3 separate regions of the Homo sapiens genome follow, and all the other regions are linked to region 1. The links come from fine-mapping of genetic effects on gene expression. A gene starts in region 1. Each other region holds a variant in brackets. All regions are shown on one strand. Distances are between the middles of the regions.

Evidence for each region.
Region 2: its variant is fine-mapped to the expression of APCDD1L-DT in monocytes after Pam3CSK4 (Quach 2016, PIP 0.95). The same link has a PIP of 0.9 or more in monocytes, monocytes after LPS and monocytes after R848.
Region 3: its variant is fine-mapped to the expression of APCDD1L-DT in aorta (GTEx, PIP above 0.99). The same link has a PIP of 0.9 or more in breast.

The regions. Positions count from the first base shown.
Region 1 is chr20:58,511,185-58,519,361 of GRCh38, forward strand. It overlaps APCDD1L-DT (APCDD1L divergent transcript), which reads left to right and starts at 4,195. Exons shown (of 7, transcript NR_034147.1): 1 at 4,195-4,556. It overlaps APCDD1L (APC down-regulated 1 like), which reads right to left and starts at 4,215. Exons shown (of 4, transcript NM_153360.3): 1 at 3,475-4,215. The coding sequence starts at 3,523. RefSeq lists an enhancer at 2,818-3,816.
Region 2 is chr20:58,539,420-58,547,596 of GRCh38, forward strand. The region is part of intron 5 of APCDD1L-DT (APCDD1L divergent transcript); the gene reads left to right. Among named protein-coding and RNA genes, the nearest start is that of APCDD1L, 28 kb to the left of the region's middle. RefSeq lists enhancers at 2,164-3,363, 6,642-7,143. The variant A/G (reference allele first, on the strand shown) is at 4,424.
Region 3 is chr20:58,608,168-58,616,344 of GRCh38, forward strand. All of the region lies in intron 6 of APCDD1L-DT (APCDD1L divergent transcript), which reads left to right. Among named protein-coding and RNA genes, the nearest start is that of LINC01711, 23 kb to the right of the region's middle. RefSeq lists an enhancer at 1,832-2,333. The variant C/T (reference allele first, on the strand shown) is at 4,386.

The DNA.
Region 1 (8,177 bases):
CAAAGCCAGGGTGGGAACCAGGTCTGCCTAATTCCAAAACCACCTTCCGTGCCAACTTCAGAATTCACTTCCTTCTCAAGAGCCCCCCAACTCAACTTAGCTGCCCTCAAGCTCAAACCAATTTTAATGGCTTCTCCTTCCCTTTGCATTGGGCTATTGATCTTCATTTTCCAGGCTGGTTTTGGCAGTGAACCACTGTATTTTGGAAGTTTTATCAGGGGCTCATTCTGGCTTTAAGCTTTCATTAGCATAGTTAACTTCCAATATATTGCAAAAATATTTCTTCACGTGTAGCTTCTAACTGCTTTGCCATCCAGATGGTTTTGAAATCAAGGAAGCTGCTGTATTTGCCTGGAGCTGGTTGTTTTGAATTTTGAGATTACAGCCTTGGTCAGAAGATAAGTGGCACAGCTGGCCACAGTGATTCATCTTCGAGAAGCACTTCACACAGTAGCAAGAGGAAGTCTCCATTGATAATTTTTTTTGTTTGTTTTAAGTAACTAATACGATTACGGGTCTCTATTCACATTAGATTTTTGGATGAGTGTATTTAAGTAATTTTCTTCTTAGTTTTTATTCTGGGTTTCAAGGCAGAGCTCCACATCAACTAATTTATTATGGAATAGCTTGTGATTTTGACCTAGTTAATCTGACTGTAAATGATAACTTGCCATCGCAAAGTATATAGCGAGAGATAAAAGCAGAGCTGAAATTAGAAAAAAAAAATACAAGTTCGAAAAAAAAGCAGCAGCTATGGTTTCTCATTTTCCCCCTCCAGCATAAATTGTTGAGTAATGAGATTTTTAAAAGCCAGAAATTGCTGTGGAGTGAACCAACACTGGCAGCTGGAGAACTGGCACCAGACACATCTGGCCTGACAGGGTTTGAAGGAAGGTTCGCTGCAGTGGGTGACTACCCATACCGCAGCCTGGCTCCTGCGGCCGCCATGCGGACATGTTCAGATACAAGAGGGAGGGAGAGCAAATGGGAAAAATCAACGTCCAAATTAGAAACTACCTAAGCTATGTTGTTTTTCTTGGGGCCCCACTGTGCCTTTGATTTCCTGATCGTTCAGAGCAAGAATAACAAAATCCGTCTAACCCAGTGATTTTGACGGATTCGTCTGAAAAACTACCTGTTGGGTTTGATCTGTTCATACCAGTGATTCTCAACTGGGGGCCACTTTATCACCTGGAGACATGTGGTCATATCTGGAGACATTTTCAGTTATCATAACTAGGAGGAGGTGCAACTGGCATCTGTAGGAAGAGGGCAGGGATACTGCTAAGCACCCCAAAATGCACAGGACGGGCCCCTCATCCCCAACAAAGAATCCTCTGGTGCCAAATGTCAATAGCGGCGAGGTTAAGAACCCCTAACGTGTGTGTACTCAATCTGAATTCTCTTGGTGGGGTGGCTGGTGTGCCATTATATATATAGTTTCTGGAACCTGGAGACATGAAGTTCAGGCGTGCCCAGCTCAGGCACCTAAATTATGTCAGTAGCTGAAGGATTAACTGGGTCCTGTTTCCTTTTACTAAAGCAAAAGGATCTCATCACCTGGTGATGTAGCCAGCGGTGAAAAGAGCTTTTCAAAGAAGCGTTCAGTGGAAAATAGTGCCCGGTGTAGAGCTGGGAGCTGCAGTGGCAGGCTGAACGGCACCCTCCCCCTTTCTGGTGGCTGTGTCTGAATTGAGGGCAGGCTGCCCCCCTCTCTCGTCAGGCCCCCGGGCACTCTTGGCTTCTCTGCTGTTGAATCTGTCTGATTTGCTGTGGTGAAAGGTCACCGAGGAGCTGGGCAGCAAGACTCCCCAAGAGCCAGCCACGGCTCTACACTCACAGTGATTTCATTGGCATGACGGGAAGCTCCGGCCTGCCAAAGACAACAGCCATGTGCTGTGACTGAGACTGCAGGTTCCTGGGGCATGTGTCCCACCACTCTAGACTGTTCCATTCCCACTGGGTGCAACGGCCTGGAGGAGGCGGATGAGAGCAGATGGACACCCGGTTTCCCCATCCTGTCCTCCCTATCTCAGCACCCAGCAGAGGCGCGCTTCCACAGCTGGCCCCCTTGTCACCCTTTCCAGTTTGCATTTTCCTGCCCTTTCGAAAGAACCAGCAGGGGTGAGGTGGTCTATTTTCATGCTGATGATCAACTAACTCTGTGGCCAAGGACAGCTGTGTCACCTCTCGCTCCCAGACTGGCAGGGGAAGCGGCCCCTGGATGAATGTCCCTTTCGACAGGTGAATCTGCAACTCTTCAAACTGCGGAGGCACCCTCCCCTGACCCTCCTTCAGACCCCTGCCAGTTCTTCTCAAAACAGCTTGTTTAGAAATTTGGGGGCTGGGAAGAAAAGACTGTGATTGAAGAGCTCCTCGAGGTGACTTAGACTTTGCTCCTTGCCTATACATGGAGCAGAGCGTGCTCTGTGGGACCGCGCAGCCCCTCTTCACCCCGGGGTTCTCGGCTGCCATTCCCTGAACATGAGCTCAGTGCCAGGCAGCAAGTGGAGTGATCCTCCTGCACGTGCTCTCGTAATCTTCACAATCATCCCAGACGGAGGAGGGGATTTTGTGAGCCCATTTGACAGGAAAGAAAGTCAAGGCTGAGAGAGCCGATGGCCATGCTTACCCAAAGCCAGACGGGTTGATATGATGTTGATCTGGGCTTCCCAGCCAGGTGGTCTAACTCCAGGGCCAGAATTCTCAGCCATTCATAATGTGAGGGTGCTTGGGGATGAGCCCCCAGCTGGGCACACTTCAACTGTGGTTACTGTCATTTTTGTCAGTGGTGACTGGGCCCCTGTGATGGCACACTCCAGTCAGCTGGCCTTTGTACAGTTTTGTCTACCCTACTCCCCACCCCCACGAAGAGCCACCAGGGAACCCCTTAGTCCTGGAGAAGGCATTGACTACTCTACCAGGGGTTCCTGAAGCCCCTTGGTCCCCTTTGTCAGGCCTGCTGGGCACAACTCGAGCCTGGGGTCACTGCGCGCTCCCTAGCTTCTCCCCGAGTCCTGCTGCAGGAAGAAGCCCCGACCCCGCACAGGTCAGGATTCCGTGGGCAAAAACAACCCCAGTAACCTTGGTCTGAATAGCCGGGCTTGTCCCGCACCATGGGGGTCTCAGTGGGCCTGGGATCCTCCTGCATCTTCTTGGAGGCCCCGGTCCCACTGGGCCCGGCACAAAGGGCAGCTCTGGGTACCTACAGGCCAGGCCCCGACTGGCGCAGAGAGTGCAGCGGCTCTCATATTGCGAGGTGACGCGACTCCCTCCCGCAGGCCCCAGGAAGCTCCTGGAGGCGCGCAGGTGCCGGCCAGGTGAGACTGGAGAAAGGCGCGCAGGGCGCAGCATAGCAGCCGCGTGGGCCGACCCAGGGCCGTAGTCCCCAAGGGCCCTTAGGGGACATTAGACGGCGAGCTCCCTCCCTTCCGAGCTCAGCCAGTTTGCCGGGTGGGGGAGGGTGGCACCTACCTCCCAAAAGCACCAGGACGCAAGCGTAGGGGAGCATGGCTGCGGGCATCCCGTCGGGGCTGGCAGGACCGCCCGCCGGGCGCTGCCACGGTGCGCAAGGGGAGGCGCGGGCGCAGGGCTCTCGGACGGCTGCGGGCGCCGGCGGCCAGGCTGGAGTCCTGCGAAGAAGTTGCGAGGGTCCTGCGCCCCCCTCGGCGCTCACACGCGCTCAGCCTTCCCGGCTGTTGATAGTTGTAAGCGGAGCTGCGCACTCATAGGTCCAACTTGCCAGAAGAGGTGGAGACAGCCCCCGGCGAGGCGCGCACACCCGCGCAGCGCGCACAGCCCCCTGGTGCAGCTCCTGCCATTCAGACCCCCAGCCCTCCCCCAGATGTCCGTCCCCTGGCCGTCGCCTTCCCCAAAGTCTTCGCAGTGGGCAAGGAGGCCTCCCCCAAGCTCTGGTCCCGGCCAAGGCAGAGCGATGCGCTCCTTGCGTCAAAGCGCACCCCTAGCCAGGCCGTTCCCTGGAAGGGCAAGCGGGGCGGGGAGTTCCTCTAAGCCCCGCCAGTCCTGGGACCCCTGAAGTTTCTATTCAGGTCTTCCAGCTACTCCTGGAAAAGTCGCGTCAACTTGGATCCCAGCAAACCCAGAAGCGCAGTGAAAGTGGCCAACCCGGTCGCCTAGAAGCCAGCCCCGGCCTCTGTCTGTAAATGAGGCCGTCACCCGCTCCCCACCACACCCAAACGCATCTAGGCAAAGTGTGGACCCGACCAGGCGGGTTTTCCTCCTTCTCGCAACTCCTCCTCCTGCCCCCCTCCCTCCCAAATCTCATCTGAGTGAGTCAGCTGAGGGTGGCAGCTCAGAAGCGAGGCAGCCGTGAGGCGGAGGACAGGCTGGGGGATCCCAAAGGGTGCGCTCCAGCCCCCAACCCAGGCACTGGGACTCTGGTGGCACCCTGGGTGGCAGGCAAGCCTTGAAATCAAGTGCACGAGCCTTGGAAAGGAGGACCGGGAGAGTTATGGCATTTATGAATGAAGAAGAGAAAGAGAATCACTCGGATGGGAAAAGTTAACTGGATTGTTCCCACCTGCATGGATCACCGGGTAACTGCAGTGGGACCGAGGGGGCGAGGCTGCGGGCTGGGGATGTGCGGGTTTCCTTGTGTTGCCACGAACCCAGAGAGGGAGAGGAAGAAGATGGAAAGAAAAAGGAAAAAGGGAAAGAAAGTAAGAGGGGAGAGAGGGGAAAACTGAGGATGAAGAGAGACAGAGAAGAGAGACCTGAGAGAGGGAGAGAAAGAAAGAGACAGAAAGAGAAATGAAAGTGAGGAAAGGGGAAACAGGCAGAGAAAGAGAGAGAAAGGGGAGGAAAGAGAAAGGGAAAAGAAAGGAGGGAGTGAAATCAACAGAAAAAAGAGAACCAGGAAGGAGGAGGGAGGGGGAGAGAGAAGAGAGAAGAGAGAGAAGAGAGAACAAGAGAGAAGAGAGAAGAAGAGAGAAGACAGAGATGCGGTCTCCCTGGGGAAAGGTTTGGAGAACTGGGCCAGGCCTGTTTCCCGGGACTCACGAGTGAGCAGTCCACCTGCCCCTCTGAAGCATTTTATAGACTCATTTGTCCCACTTTTGTGGGCTGATCATCCCACAGGGGAACAGGGGACACCACCTCACCTTTTGATTTCTTACCAGAAACTTGGGCGAGGCTTCCAGGAGCCACAAGAGCCCTTCAATCCACCCAGGGACCCCCGATGTGGGCCCACCAGCCATCCTTAGCTTTCCTCCTCTCCAGAGGCAACAGGGAATAGGAAAAAGTCCAGAGCAAGGCCACACCATGATCTTAACGCAAATGGAAATGTGAGGAAAACGATCAATTTGCTTCCTGAAAATGACATTTTTTTTTTCTGGTTTCTATGAGACTCGAGGTGGCCTTGCTGAAACTGAAATCGGTATGAGCTTTCCCTGGCAGACAATGGCCATTGTCACATATTAAATTCTCATGAAAGGGATAACTTTGTGGGCAAGAGGAGAGTTGTGCAGGGTGATTATTTATACTTGCATAATTGTGATTATTTGTGGCAATTATGGGTCTTTCAATGTACAAAATTTACAATTATGGGTAGTTTAAAAACTACATGCTAAGGCCGGGTGCCGTGGCACACACCTGTAATCCCAGCTCTTTGGGAGAGCCAGACGGGTGGGTCACCTGAGGTCAGGAGTTTAAGAGCAGCCTGGCCAACATGGTGAAACCCCGGCTCTACTAAAAATACAAAAATTAGCTGGGCGTGGTGGCGGGCGTCAGTAATCCTAGCTACTCCAGAGGCTGAGGCAGGAGAATCACTTGAACCTGGGAGGCGGAGGTTGCAGTGAGCTGAGATCATGCCATTGCACTCCAGCCTGTGTGACAAGAGTGAAACTCCATCTCAAAAAAAAAAAAAAAAAAGTTAAAACTACATGCTATTCTGGCCATAATCATTTGAGACTTCAGTCTCTGGGCTTTCCGGATGTGGGTATTTCAAAGTCCCAGGCGGCTGATGGGGGTTCACGCATTAGTGGCATTTTGTGGGGAGAATGGGTGTTACATTGATGTCCTACATAGGGTCATAATTCAGTATTTTCAGAACTTATTGTACTGCTGTTAGAGATACGAACTTTTCCACAAAGTATGATGCTTGTGTATTAATAGTTGTACTGGCTTATTTATAAATGAGAGGATTTGCTGATAATTATTGAGACTGTGGCATGGGCCAGGCACTAGTTAGGTTGAGTACTTTATATGCATGTACTTTATACCTGAACAAATTGACAAGAAGTGGGAATTACGGTCAGGCCATTTTACAAACTGGGGCAACTGAGTTCAGAGAGTTTGGGCCACTGTCCTGAGGCCAGGCAGCTGGAAGGTGGCAGAACTCCCGGATCCCTGCTTCCAACCACCGCGCTGTGTCTCCAGGACACGTCCTGTCTCACTGGGTTTTCTGCTCCTTTCCAAATCTGAGGACCCCAAAAGAAAAGGCCTGTTTTATAATAACGGCTTCTTTTCGAAGAGGTGTGTGAATAATGGGGGAAACACGACTCCAAAGTACTTTTTCTCTCCAGCCTGGGCAACATGGCAAAACACCATCTCTAGAAAAAATACAAAAATCCTCCAGGTGTAGTGGCACATGCCTGTGGTCCCGGCTACTCGGGAGGCTGACGTGGGAGGATCTCTTGAGCCTGGGTGGTCGAGGCTGCAGTGAGCTATGATTGTGCCACTGCACTCCAGCCTGGGTGACAGAGCAAGACCTTGTCTCAAAAAAAAAAAGTGCTTTTTCTACATCCTAGCTAAACCCCAGCTGTTGAGGCTGAGAGTTACAGGTGGGCCCTGCGCCTGCTGCATCCTCACCCTTGTGATGGGGCGACACTTGGGAGGGTGTGGGCAGCTGTAAAGGGCACTGGAGACTGACGGGTCCAGCGTTCCTCACTTTCCAGGTGAGGAAACAGAAGCGCAATGCAGGTGAGCTGACCCTGTTGAGATAACACAGATTTTACCCCACAAATAGAAAAAAGCAAAGAAAATGGACAAATAGTGTTTGAACAAGGCTGTCCTCAACTCACAAGCAGATCAAACAAGAGCAAAAGAAGGAACCGAAGCTAAAACTCATTTATTGTCTTCAAACATATATTTATTTTTAATCAAAAAAAGAAAAAAGTTATGTTATCCAGATCTTGCATTTTGCTCAGGGAAGGGTGATATACGCTTGGTTCCTGACCTCTTTCTTACCGAGTAATCGCTTGAGAGCTTTTGAAACGGCAGCAATCATAAGGCTGTTTTGGGGAGAAGCCTCAGCTCTGTGTTGGCCGTTAAGTCACGTCTGTGGGCATTATCGCATCTTGGCCTCCGTAGCTGGGCTTTCCTGGGCTGTTAACTGCAGGGGCCCTCGCTGGGTGGTCAGAGCTGCTGCGGGTGAGGTTTTGGGAGGATTCAGGGGGTCTTGCTGGGTGTGAGGGAAGCGGCCTTGAGTCAGATGTCTGTGAGTGGGACCCAGCCTTCTTGCTCCACGTTTATCTCCCACACCACCCCTTCCCCCAGAATCAAAGTCCAGGGGGAATCAGGAGGAAAGTATTGCAGAGCAGGGCCTCTTTTCCTTCCCCCTCCCCTCCAAATGCCTACCTCTTCATCCTTGTCCCTGTTAAAAACACCATGGGATCATAAGATCACCCCACAAAATCTTGCTATAAAATGGTCTGTTTCCTCTGCTTGTTATCAGGGGTAACTGATCAAAGAAATGGTGCCCAGGCCTGGTTATCTAATAACCAAATAAACATCCAGGCAGCCTCCTGGGCCAAGAAGGGTAGGCAGGGGTAGCTCTGGATGAAGCAGGGGACAGGCCAGGGTGGGCTGGGCCCCTCTTGGTGACCATTTCTGCCTCCAGAGTGAGCATGCTGGCTCGGCCCAGAGTCGACCAGATCCTTATAACAACCTGCATGTTACAGATGAAGAAATTGAGGCAGAGAAAGCAAGTCTCTGTCCTTCAGAAATGCCTGGTGCACCCCTGAGCCTAGCACATGCCTTGTGCATAGTGGGGGCTCGCTGCACGTTTGCTGAGTGAATTAATGAGAGAGCAAATGAACTATCACAGAATGAGCACTGGGTTTATCAGAAGACCTGACTTCAAATCATAATGCTACCACTTAGCCACTCACCATGGCCGGTGCTAGGGGGAGGCGAACTTGTTCCCAGGGCTCACCATG
Region 2 (8,177 bases), 28 kb after region 1:
ATCAACATGCCAATCTTGTTTCATCAAATTCCCATATTTCATTGCAGAAATTTTTGAGTCTATAAAAAATAGAATCATATAGTAAACTCTCATGTAACCATCTCCCAGCTTAAACCGTTATCAACATGCCAATCTTGTTTCACTGAATTCCCATATTCTCTCCCCACCTCTATTTTAAAGTGAACACATCCTATCATTTCATTCACAAGTCATTCACTACAATGTAATACCATTACTGTGCCTCAAAAATGGACAGTCATTTTAAAATATCATATAATACCCAGTCAATGTTGCAATTCCATTGATGGCCTCATAAATGCTTTGTTTAAATTAAGATCCAAAGAAGATCCACACATTGCATTTGGTTGATTTGGTTTTGGAAATCTTTAGTGAATCTCCATTCCCTTTTTTATTTTCTTATTTTTCTATTGGAAACCATATCACCCATCCTGTAGCCTTTGCCATAATCTTGATTTTGCTGATGGGATGGTGTCTTCTGATATGTTCCTCTGTCCCCTGTGTGTCCTGCAAACCTGTAGCTAGCTCTCAGTAAGATCTAGAAGTTTGATGATGTTCATATTTGACTTTTTTGGCAAGAATTCATCAGAGTTGTCATTGTATACTTGTACTGCCTCATTCCACGTGATGTCTGTTTGTCTGTTAAGCTTCCTCAGAGGTTTTGGGGTTTGCCAGCCTGATCCACCATGGTACCCACCTTCATCCACGGTACCCACCCCCATCCCCCAATTCCCAGTGATCCCACTCCTGTTTACTTTGTTCCACTTTCTTACAAGAAAAATCACATCCTAAAATGTTCCCTCCTTGCACGGAAAACCCATCCAGACGAGGCTCAAGTCATAAAAGAGCATGAGACATGGATCTCCATTTGTTATGAAGTTAGTGGGCATCAGCTTTATCAACAGCCCCCATCTTTAATCAAGAAGAAATTACCCACTGGTGGGACATTATGGTTTTCTTTTACAACTAGCTCGTTTTTTAAAAAATTAATTTCAGTTCAATTTTTTTTTTAATTTTACATTTCGGGATCCATGTGCAGGATGTGCAGGTTTGTTACATGGGTAAACGTGTGCCATGGTGGTTTGCTGCCCCCATCAGCCCATCACCTAGGTATTAAACCCCACATGCATTAGCTATTTATCATGATGCTTTCCCCCACTATCCCCCTACACAGGCCCCAGTGTGTGTTGTTCCCCTCCCTGTGTCCATGTGTTCTCATTGTTCAGCTCCCACTTACAAGTGAGAACATCCGGCATTTGGTTTTCTGTTCCTGTGTTCGTTTGCTGAGGTTAATGGCTCAGTTCAACTTTTAAGCAAGGAAAGAGAAGGATAATTGTGCAGCGTTTCCTGAAAAGTTATGAAAGAAAGCAAAGGGTCATTTTTCAGAACTCCTCTCCCACCATTAAGAATCATCCATCGTGGCTCTTCCTTGCATCTTGCAGCCGAGCTGTAAGCCCTGGAATTGGCTGATGGGGCTTTGCTTCCAGAGATGTTTCTCAGATCCTCCTATTTACAAGGAGGGTGTTTGGAACTAGAAAAAAGCTGGAGGTTCGCATCAGGGGAAATTCTCAGTGCAGCTCACACACTCTCATGCCTGCTGGGAATCCGGGCCCTCCCCACTCCCACCTTCTCCTCTGCAGCCCTCTCCTCTCTTCTCCATCCTTATTTCCATTCGAATCAGTGGTTATGGGGTGCTGTCAGGCCTGAGCACCGATGAAGGGATTTTTCAAGCTGTAATTTGTCATGTGGATGAAGGTTTGATCCCTTGTTTGGTGCCCGCAACATTGGGGTCCTAATTTCCACTCCAGGGCCAGTTCTCTGTGGAGCAGGGCAAAGCTTGCCTAACCTTTCTATGTTAGTTTCATCTCCTGGAAAATAGAGTTAATATCTACCCTGCTCCTAGGAACACGGGAATTAGTTATTGTTTTTTCAGAGTGCTAATCTCATACCTTTGCCAACACAAGGCAATTCCACCAACAGCCCCCAAATTATATCTGATCACACAGTGGCTGAATGTGTTGATCATCACTACTTCCATTGTGAAACTCCAAACGAATATTTTTAAGGTTGCCACTTTATTCATAAATCCAAGAAGTTATCACAGCCACTGCAGTGAGTGAGGTTCAGAGCTGAGGGCCACTTGGAAAAAATCACCACCCACTCCAGCCCCGGCCTCCATCCAAGGCTAGGCAGGCTATCACGAAGCAAACGAGAAGGTCACGACAGGCTGCAGCTTCGTCCCTTTCCATTTCGGGCTATGATTAATCTTTTCTGATGTTCTTTTATTTGAAAAAATAATCTAAACTGGCCCCAGACAGAACCAACTCTCCTTAAAAGGGAAATCTACATGAAAGGACGGAATGTTGCTCACAGAGAGAAAAGACAGGGAACCCATCGCTGGAGGTTTGAGGCTCCTGAGGAGAGCACTAAGGTGCCTCGTCTTTAACTTATGGGCATAACGGGAGAGCTCTTTCTTCTTGAAGTTGGTGATTCACAACCTCATTTGAGGTCTGATTCCATCAAAAATACATCCAGCTCCAAGGGCTGCCAAAAAAAAGGAGGTTTTCTCTAACCCAAGAGACCCCACACAGTTTCTCCTCCAGCCTGGAGACCTGGGTGTACTGTCAGGGCCCCCACCTTCAGTTCTCCTGCCCTCCTGAGTTGTAAGCAGTCCCCAGGAAAGACTCTTCAAGAGGCAGGCCGCTTGGGTCTGGATGGTTCTCTAAGTCAGAGTTTCTCAACTGATGTGCGACTGACATTTGGGGCTGAGTCACTGGGGTGGTGGGGACAGATCTTTGGGGCTGAGTCACTGGGGTGGTGGGGACAGATCTTTGGGGCTGAGTCACTGGGGTGGTGGGGACGGATCTTTGGGGCTGAGTCACTGGGGTGGTGGGGACGGATCTTTGGGGCTGAGTCACTGGGGTGGTGGGGACGGATCTTTGGGGCTGAGTCACTGGGGTGGTGGGGACGGATCTTTGGGGCTGAGTCACTGGGGTGGTGGGGACGGATCTTTGGGGCTGAGTCACTGGGGTGGTGGGGACTGACCTGTGTATCACGGGAGGTTTAGTAGCCTTCCTGCTCCCACCCACTGGATTCTGTGAGCAGCCCCTTCTCCCATTGCAACAACCAAAAATGTCTTCAGACATTGCCAAATGCTTCTGGGTGAGAGGGCGCAAAATCACCCTGGTGGCAATTCATGGAGCTGTTGGTCCCACAGCCCTTTCCAGGGTGCCTTCATGTCCACAGGGAACCTTCAAAGTGCCAGGGTCTTTGGCTGAGTGGGTGAGACCTTGGGAAGGCAGAGCATGGAGCTGTCCTGACACGGGAGCATTTTTTTCCCTTGTGCACACATCCGCCTGGCAACCGTGCTACGAGTCACTGTGGCCTGCCTCCCAGGTGCCCCTTTGAATTGTGCCCACAAACCAGGTGGTTAATCAGCTCTCCAGCGCTGCTTGGAAGCGTCCCTGCCTAAGCGAGCATGTAATTACCAGCTCGCACCCTCAGCCGTGGACACGCAGGAGAGCAGCGGCAGAAACGGGTGGCTCATTGCAGGAGGGGGAGCGGGGGACTCTGGCCTTTGAAGCGTGACATGAATGCCAAAGATGATGGTGTCCGTCCCCTTTGGAGACTGGACATGTTTTGCTGGCCTTTACTGGAACACAGCCACCGGATCCCTGCAGATGGCTAGGGCTTCCTGAGCTACCTGTTTGAGGGAGCGGGCCCCCAGCCCCGGGGGGCACCTGAAGAGCGGCCTAAGCCTGCACACACCTTGGCCTCTTGTTAGGTCCAGGGGGGTGTTTTATTTGGCAGCCTTGTTCCCCATCGTATCAAACGAATTAAAATACGCCCACACTAACTATAGTTTGTTTGCAGTAAAAATATTTGAAAGGAGTTTAATGATTTTGCTTCTTAAATTATCTAGCAGCAGGTAATTCATCAAAGTTGCAATTACCTGTGATTTGCCCCACAACCAATAGGCATCCTTAGGCATTCTTGCAATGGTTTTCTCAAACGTAATGCAGTTTTTATGACGACGACATCATCAATACAGCACCCAGCAAGCAGTGAGGAGGCTGCACTGCTATAGTTGGCAGGCGTTTAATGAAGCATTTATTAATTTTGATTTTGTGGCTTTCTTGTTGAATTTTGGAGCCCATAATTTTCTTCCACATTGCACACACTTGCGTGGACCCCAGAAAGGTTCATGCCTAAGGCTCTTGGGGGTTTGTGGGTGGGTGGGGGTGCTCTTTTTTCTTGGCAGTATGCTGAAGGTGAGAAGATTCCAGAGGTAGCTGAACAGTTGCTTTGCTGGGGAGGGTTTGCTTAGCTGCTGGAGTCACTCCCAGTTTCCTCTTTCTTGGTTTTTGTGGTGGTAAAAATTAAGTCCAAGCATCTGGAGAGCCAC[A/G]TGTGTGATTTGCAAACATCAAACACAGCATTCATTCCTTATTTCTTGATTAATTTATTGGCTGTCGGCTTTCTGATCAGTCTACCAGCTGGGCATTTTACTTTTCTCTTACTGCGAACGAGGCGTAATTGCTGGGACGCAAACCGGTCGGAAAAACAATGAGAAATTAGGCATAATTGGGCGGCATTTCCTGACGAACTATAATGCCAAGCTCAACATGGGAGCCAGTGTTTTATTTTCTTTTTTACAAAAAGGGACTTCACAGTTATTCCTAGCGCGTGAGTTTTCCTCCCCACTGCTTTCCAATGCCTGGGACTGAGCGGAGGGGGTGATTTCCTTCTTCCCAATCAGAGGTAGCGAATCTCTCAGAGCTTATGGTAATATTTAAAGACATAAAAAGGACAGGACAATTAGAAATGTGCACAGGTAGCTTTAGGGCTGACGTTATTGATGCCTTTGTGATCAATAGCACTATTTTTATTTGGATTGCTAGCCATAGGAAGCTACGGCCACAAAATTTAGAGAGCCCTGCAGAGGGCCTGTAAAACCCTGTTGTAACTCTCATGTCAGGCCGGGAATAACGGCTGATTTAAAGGCTTTGGCTGGTGCAGTGAGGCGGGGTTTCCATCAGTGTATGCCCAGGAGAGGGGATTACATCTGCCTGGCGTCCAGACCCCAGGTGGAGTGAAGCCGTTTATAACACAATTTGGCTGCAGTTGAATTTTAATCTTGGGATCCACCGATTGCTTTAAGGGCGAGCTCGAGAAGCCGCCATTTGTTTTTGATAGCTTTACCCAGAGACTAAAGAAATCCCTCCCCCCACAGTTGTTCTGTTAGGGGTTGTGTCTGTGGAAGGGAATTGAAAGAGAAGATTTGGTAAATAGGAGCCATGGACTGTCGTGCTTTCTGGATGAACTGTGTGGACACTGGCTTTCTGATAATCATCGTAGCTAATATTCACTGGGTGCTAATGAGACGTGAGGATGCTGCTAAGCACATTTCACATCATGTTTATCTTCTTAATTGTTTATTTTATTTTATTATTTTTTTTGAGACAGACTCTCACTCTGTTGCCCAGGCTGGAGTGCGGTGGTGCAATCACCACTCACTGCAGCCTCTGCCTTTGAAAGGGCTCAAGCAATCTTCCCACCTCAGCCTCCCGGGTAGCTGGGACCACAGGCACATGCCACCACGCCTGGCTAAATTCTTTTGTATTTTTTGTAGTTTTGTAGAGATGTGGTCTCCCCATGTTGCCCAGGCTGGTCTTGAACTCCTAGGCTCAAGCAAGCCACCCACCTTGGCCTTCCAAAGTGCTGGGATTATAGGCCTGAGCTACCATGCCCAGCCACATCATGTTTATTTAAAAACAAACAAACAAACAAAAACAAAACCCAACTCACAACAACCTGTGAGAGACTATCTCAGGCCCATCTTCTGGACCCGCACTGGCCAATATGGTCACCATTCGTTACTGCGTTTGAAATGTGGCCAGTCCATACAGAGACAAGTTGTAAATGTCAAACATTCACCAGATTTCAGACTTGAGGTGAAAAAAAAAAGTGTTAAGTACTCAATAACTTTTATATTGATTACATGCTGGGATTTGGGTGATATAAAATGTATAACGAAAATTGTATTCTTTTGATTGTGTACCCATTTGTTTTTACTTTTTGAAAATGTGGCTAGGAAATAAAAAATTATGGATGTGATTCACATCATACTTCTAAGGCACTGATCTTAGAAGAAGAAAAGACACACAGACCTGTAATCCCAGCACTCTGGGAGGCCAAAGTGGGCGGATCACCTGAGGTCAGGAGTTTGAGACCAGCCTGGACAACATGATGAAACCCCATCTCTACTAAAAAGGCAAAAATTAGCGGGCGTGGTGGCATGCTACTTAGGAGGCTGAGTCAGGAGAATTGCTTGAACCTGGGAGGCGGAGGTTGCAGTGAGCCAAGATCACGTCACTGCACTCCAGCGTGGGTGACAGAGTGAGACTCAGTTAAAAAAAAAAAAAAAGAAAGAAAGAAAGAAAGAAAAAGAGGCCCAGAGACTAAAGGATCATGCCCAAGGCCGCCCAGCATGCAAGTGTCCGGGCCTTTTAGATGCTAACAACATGACCCCAGAATGGGCACTTGTGCATGAGTCAGTTTCTCAGTCAGCTTTTTGTCGTCAGCCCCACATCCTGCAGACCTTGGCTGAATTTGTAGCCCCTCCGGTCTCAGTTTTCCCAGCTCGGTCATCAGAGGCTGGAGTTGAATGATCTTTGTGGCTTTTTTGCGGACAATGGCGTTCTCAATTTTGTACTCTTTGGCACAGAGTGGTGTAATGTGGAGAGGGGAGCATCAGTCTCTCTCTTAATGCTTATTTAATTATATTTAATTAGGAATCTCGTTGCAATTGGTCTCCTGGGGCCATCTGCTGTGGAGATTTTTGAAGAATCCAAATTTTATTTCTTGCCATCGATCCATGTGGTTAATGGGCCTGAGGAGGAATGATGTCATCTGTCCTTCTAACTTAGCACAAGAGGCAGGAGGAGAAATTGAGCAAAATCAGGCTGAGCGCCCGAGAAGGCCACCCTTTGGAGAGCCAGGGCGGGCCTGGCTCATTCCTTCAGGTTCTCAACTGTAGTGCCCACGGTGTGCCCCAGCTTGCTCTGCCCTGTGCCAGGATTTTGGGGACAGCTGGGTTCTGGCATCATCTGTGCCCTTGTTAACATGGTACCCTAAAATTGATGCTTGCCCTGATGGTAAAATGGTGGTCTGCATGTGATCGGCACCAATCTGTGACGTCCAGGGTTCTTGAGTCAGCCACGTATTCCCTGGGTTGCCTTCAAGATGACCTGAGTGGACTCACTGCCTATTCTTTTCCCTCTAGGTGGAATAGGATTCTTACAGGAGTAGGGTGATAAGAGAAGGGGGCTCTCCTTCATTGCTGCCATCGGGCTCCTTGGTGGAAAACTGGGGCAGGATTCAAAGCAAGGCTGACATGACCTGTACTTCCCCAGAAAGGAGCCGCTGGAGGCCTGGCTAGGGCCAGCTCTCCAGCCCCGGCAGCTGCCCCCCACCCACCCCCACCGGGCATTTAATCAGTGTAACTGATTAGTTGAAACACACCACAGGCTGGGAGCCTGCGACCCTGGCTGACGTCCGGGGCTGTTGTTTATGGCTGGGTGATTTGAGGCAAGCCTCCCGACCCCGCTGAGCCTCGGATCCCTCAGTTACAAAATGAGACTTATCATATCTGCCCCCCTCCCTCCCCAAGTTGTTGAGAGGCTCCAACAATGTAGAGAGGCTGATATGAAATGTGGGTAAACAGGAGAGTGGTATTTAAATGTACGCTCTTACCATAATTGCCTTGTATTGTGTGTGTATCTTATCTCCCCAATTAGATGCGAGATCCTTGGTGACAGCCACCATGTCTCCCCCCTTTTGATATTCCCCACGCAGCCGGGATGATGCTGAACATATGGCTGCTGCTCAATAAATATGTTCTGAATTGTACTGAATTTCATTTTGGTTCCAAATCACCCTAAAAACTTGATCAGGTGCAGCCCAAAGGAGCAGGCTGGATGACGGAGGCTCCCCAGCCTGGCTCTGTGGCCGTTATGGGAAAATATCTGTGGAATGAATGAATAGATGAATGAATGAATGAATGCCTCGTGGTGTTTGCTTTACTCTTCCTGCTCCCAGCTTTGACACTGGCTGTGAAATCTGCCTCCTGTGCTCAAAATGACTTCTCCCTCTCCTCCTTC
Region 3 (8,177 bases), 97 kb after region 1:
AGCGGTGAGTGCCGAGGTCCTAGGGCATGAACTTGCACCCTGAGCTGGGGGAACTGCAAAGGTCCACAGGCCCCAAAGCAGGGGCTTGAGAGGATGGGAGTGAGGACCGAGAGGTGGCTGAGCTCCATTACAAACCACCCATGGGAGATGTGGCCCTTGGCACAGCAGCAGCACCTGGAGACACCGAGGCAGCACCTGGAGGCTTTAGGACACAGCGCTGTCCCCATCATCATAGGGAAGCTTCCTGGGGGATGTCCCAGCCAGGGTCCATTAAGGGTCTGGCCTCATTCGCTGTCTGTCTGTCTGTTCATTCTTCACTCCCTCCTAGCTTCTGCCCCAGGCCCTGCCTCGTGGGCTGAGACTGCTGCCTGGCACTTCCTGCCCCAGCTGAAGGAAACCAGGCAGCCCACACCTGCCATTCGGGTCGCATGTGTGGGCCTGGGGCCCGGGGTCACTGTCGGGATGGGCTCAGCAGGTCCTAGCTTGCTGTGTGGAAGGCCTGGGGCCGCAGAATGCCCCATTGTTCATCAGGACGTGGAGGCCCAGGCCAGAGATGCCAGCTATTTTGGGTGCTGGGCGAAGGCCTGGATTTACTTGCCACAAGCGTTTTTCTCAGAAGGAAGGTCAGTGGGCCCAGCCTGGGAAGTCAACCAGTCCCACCTGGCTCCGATTCTCCCCCGTGCTCTCAACGTCCTCTCTGCAAAAGACAGGGGCCAGGGTGTCTGTGCAGTGCCAGTCGGGAGGTCTGGGTGTGTGGTGGGGGGCAGTGACTGTGTTTTCCAACTGCAGAGGCCACAGTGGGCCTCCCAGAAGCACCTACCACCTCCAATGAGCCCCTTCCATTTCAGGGAGCCCACCTGTAGACCCCCGATGCTTGAAAAACCCTGATTAGGAACTCCTGGGCTGGTGCAGCACCTGGCACATGGAGCCAGGTAATAGAGCACATACATACATCCTATGTTCAGTCCGCAGCCGGGATCAAGCTGTCTTTCCGAAGCCCGCACGAGTGTCACAGCCGTTCCAGACCGCTCTTTGGGTCAGGGGCTCCCGAAATCACCTGCTTCTAGGAGCACGCACACACATGGGCATGGAGGCATTTGGTTTCAGAAAGGTCAGAGGCCCCAGATCAGATGATTCTGGTGTAGGTTTGTGGCCTGCCTAGGCTGGAGGACTGACTTCAGCATTACCACCAGGACAGGTGGACTTGGGTGGGGCCGCTTCACCACTGCCGAGCCATGCAACCTGGGACAAGCCCTGGACCTCTCTGAACCTCAGGCTCATCACAAAACAGGAATCATCATCCTCCTCACCTATGGAGTTGTTGAGGAATGAATGAGTTCATCTGGGCAGAGCATGCAGTCCCAACAGGACGGAATTTGCTTCCCAAGGGGGAAAAACATATTTTACTCTTTACATTTAAAGCATGGATACCTGAACAGTACCTAAACAGACACCCAGTATACCTGTGGCGTTAAAGTGTCATCGGAGAGAGCTATTAGGAAAAAATGCCTTAAAAGCCTCCTTGCAGGGGTGAAGAATGGCAAAAGCTTACAAAGATGGTTCCTGGAACACAGCAGGTGCTCAGCAAACTTCAGCTGCTTTGCTGTTATTACTACTCACAGCAGGTGTCACAGAGGAAGGACTGGTTGCAAGCTTGGGTTTAGGAGCCATACTGTTGGAGGTCCCTTCCTGGCTCTGCCACTTGCCAGCTGTGTGACATTGGGCAAGTTGCTTGACTTTTCTGTGCCTCAGTTTCTCTCATCTGGAAGCAGAGCTAATTAGAGCACCTGTCTCGTGCAGTTTTGTGTAGATTAGATGGGTTGATTTGTGTGGTATGTGTAGTTCAGTGCCTGGCACACAGTAAACACTCAGTAAATGCAAGCTATGATTATTATTGATTAAGATTGTTAATTATGACATGCAAGGAACTTGGGGGTCAATGGTGCTCATTGAGGGGAAACTGTAAGGAAGGGTGAGGTTCAAGGTTGGCCCCTAACTGCTTCTCCTGGGCATCTGGTCTGGCTCTAGCCTCAACCACTAAGGGCTGTCCTGGGCTCCAGAGGAGGGGCCGGGTGCCAGCCTAGGGCAGGAGCACCAACCGAGCACGTGAAGCACTTTGCACAGTGGCAGGGTGCTCAGGACTCTATGGAACACCCCTATCTGAGCACTGACTTCAGAGCAACGTGTCCTCCATGCATAACCCAGCTCCACATGCAGGGAGCCTGGGCCACTGCGGCCAGCTGCCCCCTTACCCTCTCCATGCCTGACCTGGCTGAGGTGGGGAGGGAGGAGTCTATCCCCTTCACACGACTTCCCAGACGGTGAGCCCCTCGCTTTCCTGGTCCGGACCCACAGTGAAGACTCGCTCTCCTGGGATCCCACGGAGACCTTACGAGGCCCCACGTGGTCCAGCCTGCCCGCCCATCCCTGCTCATCAGCCCACTGGCCACCCACTGCTCCAGAACACAGCAAGCCTGTCCCGCCTCAGGACCTTAGCACAGGCCATTCCACTGCCTGGAACTCTCTCCCCGTGGCTGGGGCCTTCTCAGCCTCCAAGTCCCCCAGTCAACCGTCCCCTCCCCTGACAGGCCTTCCCAGACCATCCAGGGTGAAGTGGACGTCACACGCCCTCCCCTCCCCTCCCCAGGTCTTCTCGTCATCATATCCCTGTTTCATTTTTGTGTTGCTCTAATCACGAACAACCATTCTCTGTGTGCGTGTTTCCTGTCCTTCTCCCCGTGAAAGATGACAAGCTCCATGGGCTGGGGGCTTTGTCTTGCCTGCTTCCTGCCCGCCACTTCCCAGTCCAGGGCCCCGCCAGCCCTCAGTACCTGCTTGTTGTGGGGATGAAGCCCACCGAGACCTTGGCTGCGCTCGTCATTTGCTGCGGTTGCCATCCCATTTTACAGCTGTAGACACTGACAGCAGAGATTCCTTTTGTGTCAATATCTCAGGGAAGTTTCTGGAACCCCTACCCAGGACCCAGGGAAAGGACTCTGCCTGGGAGGTTTCAGAGGGCACAGGAATGCAACACTGCTCAGGCCCTGGCACTTACATTTCTCTGCAAGGAGCATTTTCCTAAAATTTGTCTGTTGCCTCTGGACGCGTAAGCAAGGTGACTAAGGGACTCAGGATTTGATTAGGCAGCAAATCCGGATAAACAGGACAGGTGGCACTAATCAGAGCTGACGACTAGACAAGGCCTGGGAGGCCCTCAGGCTCTGTGAGCTCAGAGCACCTCTGTGGAAACTTCCTTCTGCCCGGTCCCCAGAGAGGATGGCCACAGCAGCACCCTGCCTGGCTGGGACGTGGCTGGATGGGGCACAGGCCTGGAGACCATGTGGCATGCACCCTGCCACTGAGCCCCCAGGTGGAGGTGCCAGGGGAGGGAGGTGGGGCTGCACAGGGTTTCTTGGCTGTCTCCAGCCAGTGGGGGACACTGAGCTTGAACTGGGCAGGTGACGACTTCTCTGGGCCTCAGTTTCCCCCTCTCTAGAGGTGATGAGTACAGGCCTGGGCTCCTGGCCCTGAGGTCCTAGGAAATGCTCTGTGCTGCAGACAGTCCATGAGGCCAGGACTGGCTCTGGCCCAGCCTGGTGTCTCCCAGGGCATGGAGGGAACACACATTCACTTCCAGAGAGCTGGAGCCTGGGGCAGGACTCTTGCCAACAGCCCCCGGCCAGAACCTGCAGGCCTCCCTCAGGTCCCACCTGGAGCCACCTGCCTGCCATGCCTTCCTGGCCTCGTTCCCCCATGGTAAAACAGTCACTGTGCCAGCCTTGGGCCAGGCTCTGACCTAAGTGTGTGTTTGTAAAGCAGTAGCTTCCTTTTTGCCTTCCAACAACCCGCAAGCCAGGAACTGTCACTGGCTCTCGTGTCACAAACGTGGTTTGAGGAACGCCTGCAAGGTCTCATGGTTAGAAAGGGCAGAGCTGGATTTCGGACCCATGCTGGCTTGAGAGGAAGACTCCCTCCCTCCCTCCCTCCCTCCTTCCCCCCTTTTCCTCCCTCCCTCCCTCTTCCTCCCTCTCTCTTTTCTAGTGACCAGAGCTTTCACTGATCAGCTAACAGTATTTGGCTAGCTCCCCAGGATCTGCTCCTCAATCCTAAATGGGACAGAAGTCTTGGCCACCAAGCGTGCCTGTGTCCCCCGCCAGGTTGAGGGGCAGAGGGTGCCACTGTGGCCCCCCGTGCCTGGCGGAAAGCACACCCCGGCTGGGTTCTTAAATCCGTAAGGTCACAATCAACAAGTGAAGGCACCCTGAGGACCCAAGGGCAGAGAGTTCCAGGAGGCGGCTGCGGGAGGGGCTGTCTGGGGCCCCCTCAGGCCCGCAGGGGTCAGGGCCTGTTGACTCTGGCGTCCTGTGAATAGACTCTTGCAAAGC[C/T]GCCATGTTCTCTGCTTCCTTGGGGAGGCACCTTGTCTTCTTAAGTCATTCCGTTGTGTCGATAATGCCTATTCTTTCCACGGGGCCATCTGCCAAGGTCAATGTTTGTGTTGTTTTAAAAACTTACATTGTATCACTGTGGGAACTTGAGTGTACAGAAACCTTTTTTTTTTTTCCTTTTAAGGAGGGGGCTGGGTGGGAGGTGGAGGTAGAAAAGTTTTCTCACTTTTCCTCTATTGCTTTAACATAAGACACCATTTGGATGGCGTTGGCTTCCCGAAGCTCCAGATATTTGAAGCTGTATTCACCGCGTGTGGTGCTTGCTTCTCCCTCCCCACCCTCTGAGGACACAGCCACTGGCCATTCCCTAGTAAAAAAAGAAAAAGGAAGAGAGGGACAGAGGGAAGAAGAGGTGGGAGCTTCCTAGAGCACAGACCCTGATTAATGTTCCAGGGAGAAAGGTTAGAGATATGTACTCAGGAAAGAAAATGGGAAAAAGGCCAGGTGCAATGGCTCATGCCTGTAATCCCAGCACTTGGGGAGGCTGAGGCAGGAGGATCACTTGAGCCCAGGAGTTCGAGACCAGCCTGGGCAACATAGTGAGACCCTGTGTATACAAAAAATACAAAAATTCTCCAGCCGTGGTGGCATATGCCTGTGGTCCTAGCTGCTTGGGAGGCTAAGGCGAAAAGATTGCTTGAGCTCGGGAGGTTGAGGCTGCAGCTAGCTGAGATTGTGCCACTGCATTCCAGCCTGGGCAACAGATCAACATCCTGCCTCAAAAAAAAAAAAAAAAAGAAAAAAGAAAACAGAAAAGGAAAAGAAAAAGAAAAAAGGTGGTGGGGAACCATCTTGGAACGAAATTCACTCCATGTTTGTCTGAGCCTGTCTGTTTCTGCAGAAGGGAGAGAGGGGTGATTTTAATTGAAAAGGACAAAATTAAATAAGGCCCGGACTTCAGGTACTCAGGAGCCTCATGGACTTGTCCCCTGGCACAGTGGCTGCCGCTGCCACCTCATGCCAATTACGCGGCCGGCCAACACCATCAGGGTCCCCAGATTAGATGCCAGGCCCCTGGGCCTGCTTTAGTCTTGGGCAAACCAGGAAGCTGGCCGCCAGCAGCCCACAGCCCTGAGATGCCGGGAATTTGTTTCTCCAAAAATGCCCTGATGAGGCCGGTGAAAAGGAGGGAAAGGCCTGACACGGGCCCTGGTTCTCCCGGGACACAGTGGCCCAAGGCTGTGTCGGCCCCAGCCCCGGGAGAGGTCAATGGCAGGAGGGTTTGTGTGGGGATCAGACATGAAGCTGGGCAACAGCAGCAGACAATGGGTCCTGAGGCTGGGCCCAGACCTCTTAGGCCCCATCAGCCACCTCCTCCAGGGAGGACTCTTTGATTAACACTCACTGGGCCCTTCTGGCTTTGGCTGGTATGAGAGGAAACCTTCCTTCCCCACTGCCTCCTGTCCTTCCACAATTCTTCCTAGAGCACTGGATGCTGGGGGCCCAGAGACCCCAACACACAAGTCCCTCAGAGTTTGCAGTCTAGTGGGTAGAGAGACGACGAATCAGGCTCTCCCAGCAGCCCTGAGCTAGGGAAGAAAGGACAGAGTGTCTTGGGGGCAAAGAATGGGGCTAGGGGTCAACAGGGCCCTTCTGGGGCTGGAGGAAAGATAAGCGGGAGTGAGCTAGGCAAAAATAGGGGTGCGGTGCTTTAGCACACGCAAAGAACAGGGTGCCTGTCTCCTTAGGGGCATGAGAGGAGGGAGCTGCAGCCTCACGGTGGGGTGGGAGATGCTGCTGGCAGCAGAGAACAGGCTGCTTGGGAGCCGCCCTGACATGACAGGGGCCTCAGAGAGCCCTAACTTCAGCAGCCCAACCCTCACACATCTGCCTATACATCCGCACTGGAGCAGGCAGAGGCTTGGCCTGGGAGAGGGGCTCCGGCAGCAGCAGTAGCCCCGGCAGCCTGTGCACGGAGCCTCCCTGGGTCCCGGGGTCACTAGTGAGGCTGCTTTGCCCTTTCTTCACAGGGTGACCCACCTGACTGCTCAGGGCCGCACAAGGGCCTCCATGTGCTCCCGTCTCTAGCAGGTGAGGCTACACGGGCGGCTCACTGCCTCACCCATGCGTCCCTGGGTGCTCCAATGGCACCGAAGGCAGTAGGGATGCTCCGCCACTTTGGGGTATATGCAACGTGCAGCCCTGCAGCCCTTCATCCTCCTCCACCCTGGAGGCTCAGTCAGAAGTGGGCACATGCACCTCTGTCCCGAGGTGAGGAAGCTGAGGCACAGGAGTGCAAGGGGCACCCCAAAAGCCACCAAGCTCCTAAGCAGTACACCTCGGACCTGAGCCCATGTTGTTTGGGATTTCTGTTGGAGGACAACTTCCATGAGTCTCTGCCACTAGCTCACTCTGTGACTTGGGGCAGTGACTTCAGCTCTCTGAGCCTCACCATTCTTGTCTGTCAAATGAGGCTAATGGCTGTGCCTCCCCTGTAGAGTCACAGTGGGGAGTAGGGGGTGATTGGTATACGTAAGGCATTTGCAACTGTGCCTGGCGCAGGTGAGCCCCTACCTCGTCCTCGCGTCTCCCCTCTGGCCCCAGGATCCTCTTCACTGTGGGCCTAGATCCAAGTTGCCTGGCACCAGGTCCTTGCATGAGCTCATGTTTGTTTAGAAATGAGAGACACGGACCATGTGGTTGTGTGTGCCACCTCAGCAGTATATGTGTCAATCAACAATGTGCTGCCAATCACCGGAGTGTCCTCCGGGTGCAAGGCGAAGCCATTTTGCTTGCCTTTGTTCACTGTGACCTCACAACAGCCATCGTCATTTCACCAATGAAGAAACAGAGGTTTTAGTGGCCCAGCCATTCAGCCAGCGTCTCACGGCCGTTGGGCAGGGGACCCACAGTCAAGCTGATCCCAGAGTGTACCCCCCCTCCCCACTATCACCACCCACAGCCCCACAACGGACCATGGTGTGCTTTCCTGGTCATCATGGACACTATGTGTGTGTCCGCCGGGCCTGTGGACTCCGAGAATGCAGGCAGCACGAACCCACGCCTGGGATCCCCACTGTCTGCAGGGTGCAAACGGTTCCTCGGCCCAACAGGCCAGGGCTGGGCTGCTTTGAGGGAAGTACAGGAAAGAGTAGCCAGGACAGCTGTCCACACGCTCTTCCTCTCCTTAATGTGTTTCCTCTGACCAAGAGCAGCGAGGCAGGTGGGCAGGGAGAGCTCAGGTTGGTGCCTGGGCCCAACCGTGACGCTGTTTTTAGAGGAATGAGTGTGAAATGCTTTCCATGCAAAAGGGAGAGAGAAAGGGGGAAAGGACCAGGGGAGAGGCAGAAGCCACTGGCTGAGTATAGGACACCCCAGCTCGGAGCTGGAGGCAGCATGGCACCAGTATGGTTGGCACTTCTGGGGCCATGGAGGCAGGGCAGGGGCCCACGGAATGCTAGATCTTAGAGACCTGGCAAGGAAAGTGGGGTGGAGGCAGATCAAGGGGCTATGTTTGGGTTCAGGGGCCCTAACCCATCAAACGGTGCAGGTAACGGCTTCCTTGAAGAGGCTGGGTGAGCTGGGACCAGGAACATAGCTCAGGTGACCTTGTGGGGCTGAGGCTGGCACACAGCAGGGTCACCACAGCCATGGGCAAAAAAATGTGTGCACCTTGTGCTGGAATTCTCGCCATGCTCTGAGCTGGTATGCTGTCAGACGTGGGGGTCTGCTCCCCAAACCCTGCTCTGCTTCTCCTCTCCCGAGGTCATTTGGCCAACAGTGATGGAGCAA